Linked DNA regions of Homo sapiens. The protein of the gene in region 1 interacts with the protein of each later gene in a pairwise test. Each region holds a gene or a part of one and is shown on either strand. Other genes may lie near its edges.

Region 1 (4,296 bases):
ATGCACCTCCAGAAAAGACCTCAGCAGCAAACACATGGGCAATTTGTTTCTTTAACGGAGCTAATTCCACACAATGGGCAAAGGAGAAGAACAGGAAGAAAAGGAAGGTACTACCATTAGGGTTCAGCCCTTGAGCAAAGTCAAAAACAAAACCAGCTCAGCCCACTCCTGAGGAAATGGGCTGGGCACGCTGCACAGGCAGTACACCAGTGGCCATGGAGCACACAACTTAAAAATGACAACAGAAACAAAACACAAACCAGGCGCACACGGCATGAATTCTGTGCTTAAAGACACTGAGCAAACTGTCGTAAGCTCCACCAATACTGCTACTTTTATTTTCAATCTAGTGCAGAGGCTTTTGGGGGATAATTTCGAATCATAATTCTCTCTCCTACCACACTGTACACCGAGCTGTCCTAATTGCACAAACACACACAACAACATCCCAGAGTCATCTCACATTCCATTTCATAAGAATCATTACGAGGAACTTCAACCCAACACAAATGGATGAAATAGCACCTGCAAAGAACTTCTTCTGCAAGAAGACTTGATTTCACCTTGCAAAAGTGGTCATTTGTCATTAGGGAGGTGTAAATGATTGCTTTGCTGTTCTAATTAAATTAGTACTTATTTCCTGATGATATAATTTATTAATTTCAACATGAGAACAAAAATTAAGTCACAAAATAAACCAACAGAGAGACAGGGCAAGCCATGTTCCTAGCATGGATTAAATGACAAGCTCCTTGCTCTTACTATGGAAAAGTATTTTCATCTCTCCGTTTTTCATGGAAGAGTTTAAATAGGGAAAACAAATGCTCACTACTGTCCTTGCAAAAATAAACTAATGAAAACCAGTAAGAGCAGCTGGCTTTAAAGTTTAATAATTATCTGCAAAGGCAGAAGTTTCCAGTTTCACTCAAATTTGTCCTTTTATACTAAATGCGTGACCTGTGGCAATACCTACAGATAAGTTTGTCTGTTTTCATAGTAAAGCAAATTTACAACAGACTTCTACACATTTAAAACTGGATCAGGTTAGGATACTAAATAAAATTCTAATGAAGCAAATCTCAATTATGATCCAAAAGCAATAAAATAATTGTAAATATATCTGCACAGCCTATAAAAATCAATCTATTTACCTTATACAACCAAATGCCCAACTTCCACACACTCCCCAAAAGGGAAGCCACCTTCAGAAATTGCAGACTTATGCTGTTGGAAATAAAATATAACACATTTGCCAGGATTAGCAGAGAAAGGCAAGCTGACCCCTTACCTGGTAAAGCTTTATGATGTGTGGATGGTTCAGAAGCTTCATCAGCTGAACCTCACGATAGATTTTCTCCAAATTGCTTGAATCTAATCGTGTTTTATCAATTATTTTTATTGCAACCTACAAATTTAAAAAGAAAAAGGATATTCTGTGGGTTTTTTTAAAAAAAGAAAAGAAACCCTCAACCTAATTTACACATTTCATTTTTTGCAAGTTAATTTCTCAACACTCTGTCTCCAGAAGGTCACAAGAAGTTGGGAAAACATAACCAAAGTAACCACTAATGTTATTTAAAATAATCAGAGTTAAGTAAGTGACTTAAGTATTTGCAGGCTCACTTTACAGGGTTTAGCTCTGAGTCCATGAACCACTGCAATCTTAGGTTGGTCCTTTTTTTTGCTATTATCCTCTCTGCTTTCTCCCAATATATGTCCAAATTATGCAGCAACATAATATAAAGCATTATTTTTCTTTACCGAACTAAAAACGGTTACTATTTACCCACCACGACAATCAAGCCTGGAGCAGTGAATCTGCATGGGGTCCACCCGCCAAAGGTCGGGTCGCCCCGGGTCCAGTGGGGAGGCCCCGCCGGCTGGGTCCCACCGCCCCCACGCACCTGCGTTTTGGTGACTCGATGCCGCGCCAGCTTCACCACCGCGAAGTTGCCTTTGCCCAGGGTCCGCTCGATGTCGTAAAAACCCACCCGGAGGGGCTTCTGCTGGCCCTGACCCTGGCCCGCGGGGTCCGCGCTGAACTCCGACATGATAACCATGGCTCCGCGCGCACCTGCGGGGCCGCACAGAGCTCAGAGCCCACCAGCGCCCCCGCCGCCCGCGGTCGGCTCCATCCGTGCCCGCGGAGCCCCCAGTCCCCACGGGACGCAGGGACCTGCTCCCACGCCTGTCGCCCCCACTCTATCCACGGGCCCCTCCAGCCCCGTGGGAGGTGTGGACCCGCCCCCGCCGCCCGCTCCACCCGGACCCCCGACCCTCTTGAGCCCCGCGGGGCGCACGGACCCGCTCTCATAGAGGCCCCTGCCGCCCGAGTCCGGTTCCGTCCCGATCCCGGGACCCCCTGAGCCGGGATTCCACACTCGCCTCCCGCCGCCCGCTGTCGGTTCCGTCCCCACCCTCGACCCCTTTAGCACCTCTGGGCGCGGACCCGCTCCCACACCTGGCCCTGCCACCCGAGGTCGGCTCGATCCGGATCCCAGGACCGTCCCCTGCCCCGCTCCCACACCCTGCCCCCGCCGCCCGCGATCCGTCCGGTCCCCACCCCCGACATCCCAGGCACCTCGGGGATCGCGGACCCGCCCCCCACACCCGGTCTCTCCGCCCGCGGTCGGCTCCAACCTGACCCCCGGCTCCCCAGCCCCTGAGCCCCGCGGACTCACTCCTACCCCGGCCCCCCAACAAAGGGGAGCCCGAGGGCGGCCAGGCCGCCAACCCCGCCCGCGAACCCCGCGCGCGCAAGGCCAGGGACCCTGCGCGGTGGCTGCAACCCCGAGCCCCGGCCCGGCGCCCGCGCGGAGCCCCCACGGCGGCCACCTCCGCCCGCCCGGAGCCCGCCGCTGCCGCCGCTGCCGCCGCTGCCGCCGCCTCACCTCCGCCGCCACCGGAGCGCCCAGGCCAGGAAGCCGCCCGCTCGGCCGCTGGCGCTGCTCGGGTGCCTACTGCTCCGGCTGCCGCCGCCGCTGCTGCTGCCTCCGGGGCCGCGCCGCATGTCAGCCCGGAGCCGCCGCGCTCCGCCGCACGCGGCGCCCGGCCCCGCCCCGGCCCGCCCCGGCCCGCCCCCCGTAGTCCCCGCCCCCTGCCCCGCCCCCGCCGCCCGGGCGGGGGCCGCCCATTGACGTCGCTTTGACGCCAGAGCGACGCGCGGCCGAGCGCCGGGCGGAGGGAGAGCGGGAGATCGGGCGGTTGCCAAGAGACTGGCGGCTCTGACGCGCGCGGGATGAGGCCGTTGCCCTGGCGACCGCGGGCCGGTGACGTCAGGGGCGCCCGCCGCCCGAGGCCCGCCCGCCTGCGCTCCGCCGGGCGCCCCCTCCCGGGCGCTGGGGGCACTGCGGGCGGCCCCACCGCCGAGGGCGCGCCCGCCCCTCCACGCTCGGGCACTCGGGCCGGGTCCCGCGGGCGCCTTGTGCTCGCTCCCTCCAGGAGGGGACGGCTCTCGGGCAGGGGTCGCCGGCCCCTCCACGCGGCCTGCGTTCGTCCAGACTCAGAGCCTCGGGACGTGCGGGGGCCCGGGGGCCTCGCGGGCTCGCGCGTGGGGCTGGCGGCGCGGATGCCCTGGGGCGCTGCAGACCCCGAGAGGCCGCTTGCCCGCGGGGACGTCAGCCGCTTTTGCTGTTAAAATCTGAAATGTTCAGCAAGTTAGAAACTTGAAACCTAAGGAAGCGTGACCGGCCGCTCTGGAAGCCCCCGCCGCGCGGCCGGTCCCGGCCCCGGCCCTCAGCGGCGCTGGCGTCTGCGCGTCCCGGGGCTGCCCCCGCAGCATGTGGGGCTGGGACCCTCTTCCCGCGCGGGCCCCGGGCGGACGCTGCGGGCGGTGACGGAGCCAGGCCGGCCGCCTGGGTAGGGGACGGGGGCGCGGGACCACTTGCTTGCCCGTGGCCGATGCCTCATCCGAACGGAAAACGTTTTCTTCAGGGGAGACAGAGGCTGTGGGCGAAGGTATTTTTTAAGCCTGAGGACCCATTTGGGAGTTAGATTCTGGATCGAGCCTAGGGTCAGTTTTCCTTGTGTTAAATAACACTACTTCACAGAAGGGGGAACGAGAATTCAGGGAAGTTGGCACAAAACTTGGAACCCTTCTCGGGAGGCTTTCCTGCCTGGACGGACGCCTGGGAGGAGGGCCCGGAGAAACGAGGATGAGCTTCTCCTCATTCGCCCGAGGGTCTGACCACAGATTTCCCAATCGACACACACACACACACACACACACACACACACATACACACACACGGGTTGTTTGGGAGTCAGTTGGTTTTCAAAGGCTTTCAAGGAAATGAA
Region 2 (3,956 bases), on another chromosome or scaffold:
TAGCAAATTTGATGATTGTGCAGTGCAATCTTATTTTAATTTGCCTTTCCCTGATGACTGAGCATTTTTTCATCAGGTATTTGTATATTCTCTTTTGTGAAGAGCTGTACAAGTCTTTTTGTCTTTTGGCCTACTGGCTTGTCTTTATTATTTATTTAAATGGATTTGCTTAATTTCTTCATGTAATCTGCATATAAAGCTTTTTGATAATTGTATGTGCTTAGAATATTTTCTCCTACTTAGTTGCTTGGCTTTTTCTACTCTCTTAATGGAATGTTTCATTGAGCACAAGTTCCTAATTTTAATGTAGTTTATTTCATCATTTTTCCTTCATGAGCCATGCTTTTTTTGGTGACATGTGCAAGAAATTGTTTATACTCAAAGATAATGAAGATATATCTTCTATGATATCATCTAGAAACTTTGTTTTACCTTTGCTGTGTAGATTTACAATTCATTTGGAACTGAATTTTGTGTGTGGTGTGAGGTAGAAAGTGAAGCTTTTTTGTTATGTTGATGAAAATAGAAAATGTCCAGCTTCTCTGTAGAGACATATTTGCCATAAATCAAATGTCCGTATGTTGTGTCAATTTCTGTACCTTCTGTTCTATTTTATTGGTCTATTTATTTTTGTGTTGCTACTTAATCATTCTAATCATGGTAGGTCTATAATTTTTAATATATGATAATGTGTTTCTATTTTGTTGTTATTCAAGTTTGTATTGCCCATTCTTGGCCCTTTATGTTTTCATAAAATTTACCTACTTGTCTATTTCTACCCCAAAAGGGAAAACAATTAAGATTTTGATACAATCTATTACAGCAAATATATTGATCAGTTTTAGGAAATTGCCATCTTAACAGTATTTTCTTCCATACCATGAACTTTAGCATGTCTTTCCATTTGTTTAGATCATCTTTAAATCATCTCATGATTTAGACTTTTCTGTTTAGTAATCTTGCACATCTTCTGTTAAGTTTATCTCTAAGTATTTCTTTTGATTCAGTTGTAAGTGGTATTTTCTCTATAAGTAGAAATCTGGATTGGTAGTTATTTTCTTTCAGCACTTTGAAGATATGATTACCTTGTCTTCTGATTTTCATTGTTTGTTTTGCATATGGATAGCTAATTAACCTGGCCCCATTTATTGGTAAAGTCAGCTATTGACCTTCTTGCTCCTTCGAAAATAAACGTCTTTTTTCCTCAACTTTTTTCTTTGTGTTTGTCTTGAAAAAGTTTTACCATACTGTGCCTGGGTGTGCTTCTTGAATATGTAGTTTGATGTCTTTCATTATGGAAAATTCTCAGCTTTTGCCTCCTCAAATATTGTTTTTGCTCCTATGAAAAAATTTTCTTGTTTTCTTCTGAACTATTTTTCTAGTTCACTAATGCTCTCTATATCTAATATCCTGTAAAAAAATCATCCACCGACTTCTTAATTTATTATGTTTTTCAGTTTTAAGATTTCCATTTATATGCTGAAATCATCCATTTTGTCACTTTATCCTTATTTAAATTGTTATACTAAAGTTCAGGTGTGATAACTCCAATATCTGGATCTTTGGTGGGTCTATTCTGTTTTCTTAATTTTCCTCTTTATTTTCTTTCAAGTCATGTCTTGTTATTTGTCTTCTTATTTGCTATTGCATTTCAGATGTTGGGTATGAGTAACTAAAAATAATTTGAGGCTGTGGATGATATCTTTCACTAGAGAAGATTAGTTTTACCCCCCAGGTAGTCAGAATAGGGTGAAATCAACTTAATCCAATCAGGCACAAATCCTTAAGAGGGCTGGTATATTTTTGTTTTACTACTCCTTGGAGTTAGCCCTTTGGAATCACAAATGAATCCCTGTTTTGTTTTGTTTTCTGTTGTTGTTTTTAACTAGGGCTTCTCCTCTTCAGCGGGCCCTGCTCTTTAATTTTTGTTTCTCACCACTCTGCCAAAGTCTAACTTCTGAATGCTCTGCTAAACTTCTTGGCCTATCAGACATTTGTTTTGTTTTAAATTGTCACTATCCTTGCGGGAGGAAAAGCATCCTCATTTTCTTTCCCTCCACTCTGGGACTTTGTAAGTCCTCACTACTTAAGTGTCTTTCAGATGCCTTCAAACAGATTTTAAAAATTTTGTCCAGATTTCCTAGTTGGTCTCAGAGAAAGGTTTGGTTTGAAGCAACATAGCCCTTGCTGAAAGCAGAAACTTCATTTTAAGTTTTGGTTAGATAAAAAATCAGAGCCTGTACTGTTGTTGCCATTTACTTATACTAGCATTAAAATTGTGTGTGTTCACATGAAACACAGTAGTGTTGCCTGAGTCCAGTGTGTTTTGATGTATGCTTAGGGAGGAGGTAATTAAACATTAATGAAAGAAACTTGGGGAAGATCATCCTATACAAACACCTTCATGAGAAAGCTAGCAGCAGCATCTCTGAAGAGGAACCCATGTCTTTCTAGCTTCAGGGTGAAGTGCAGTGAATGGGGTATGGATGGAGGACATTAAAATGGCAAAATCTTGTGGCCCCAAATAAAGATTTGGGGGTAAAACTGTTCCTGGACTCTCACTATGCTGAATAGGTTAATGCTTCTGCTGAGGTCAGTGGAATGAGTGTAGCTTGGTGCCCTCAGCTATAATGAGTGATGAAAACAATGCCTTGGATTGTTTTTGTTTGTTTATAAATCAGTTTTATGCACCCTACAAAACTGATCCACAAATTTCTTTCTATTTTGTAGCTCATTCACCAACAACTCTTGGACTCCAGCCCTTGTTACCCCATTCAATGACACAACTGCCAATAAGTCATACCTAATTCTTTTTTCAGGGATAGACTTGATTAAGGATATAAATTTGTCATTTATTATGTATAAAATACCATTGAAAAGATATTACTGTTAATTTTTTATTTAACACCTAAAGCATTTCCAACATCACTTTGCTGCCCAGGTATGTATCTATAGTTGGCCTGCAAGACACTTTTATTAATTCTTCATTTTTTGTAAAACTTATGTTTACAAGAAGAAAACAAATCAAAACATTTTTTGTATTGTCTGGAAATAGTTCACTCTAGTGTGTATCTGTTAATTTATTTGTCATCAAAAGAGCACTTTGCCTAAAAGAAAGGACTGACAAGTGTGCAAAATGTTTACAATCTTTTGTGAAATTGTAGTTTATCATTAGTTTGTATCTGTAAGTTATTGTAATAAATATTACCTGTATTTTTTGTTATATACAACTTTATACTTTGAAGCTTGTATCTGTGAATTTGCAACTGAAATTTATTTTGCCAATGTTTTCTGAATGAACTGAATAAAGCTTCTGTTGTAGCATGCCATGCAAACACATTATTGTGTTTGTGGTTGATGAATTATGGCTGTAAATAACACTATAGTTTAATAAGCCCACCATTCTGAGTTTATTAAACATTTTCCATTCTTGTGAAAATTTCAACCAGTTTGTCCTTTTTGTGTGTTTTCAGCAGTAAGTTGACTTTAGTCTCTTTAAAATCTAACAACTAATAAGTTTAAAAAGTATTGTGTTTTGAGCTGCATTGTATGAACACATTTGAGTAGGAAACATATTATTCAAAAAAAAAAAACACAGTAAAACATTTAATTTGGCAAAAATTGTCTTTTAGGCCAGCTAATAAAATCAATGTGAAAGAGAAGGCAGAACACTTTTCAGAATGGACTTCGGAGGGTATTACAAGCCAGAAATGAAATATGGGCCATAATATATTTCTTCAGGAGTGAAAAAAGAGAACTAAAAGTTTCTAGAGCAAGAACTCTTTGCATTTTCTTCTTGGTGAATACCCTTTAGGGATGGTGATTCTGAGAGCTGAAATCTTAAACCTCAGGACTTTATCTTATGTGGCAGTGGACTTACAAATTTTTGAATTTAAAGAATTTAGTACTCACTTTTTGTCTTTTTATATGCCAGTTGGGGAAGAAAAAAGGTAATG

Evidence for each region.
Region 2: the proteins of putative serine/threonine-protein kinase SIK1B (region 1) and LHX8 interact in a two-hybrid assay, tested with the Homo sapiens proteins (one large-scale study listed by BioGRID).

What each region holds. Positions count from the first base shown.
Region 1 is NC_000021.9:6,109,848-6,114,143, reverse strand, and holds the start of putative serine/threonine-protein kinase SIK1B, read right to left. Parts: upstream 3,014-4,296; 5' UTR 2,892-3,013; intron 2,075-2,891; 5' UTR 2,061-2,074; coding exon 1,905-2,060; intron 1,406-1,904; coding exon 1,289-1,405; intron 1-1,288. UniProt on the Homo sapiens protein: Serine/threonine-protein kinase involved in various processes such as cell cycle regulation, gluconeogenesis and lipogenesis regulation, muscle growth and differentiation and tumor suppression. Phosphorylates HDAC4, HDAC5, PPME1, SREBF1, CRTC1/TORC1.
Region 2 is NC_000001.11:75,158,089-75,162,044, forward strand, and holds the end of LHX8 (LIM/homeobox protein Lhx8), read left to right. Parts: intron 1-2,730; coding exon 2,731-2,807; 3' UTR 2,808-3,445; downstream 3,446-3,956. UniProt on the Homo sapiens protein: Transcription factor involved in differentiation of certain neurons and mesenchymal cells.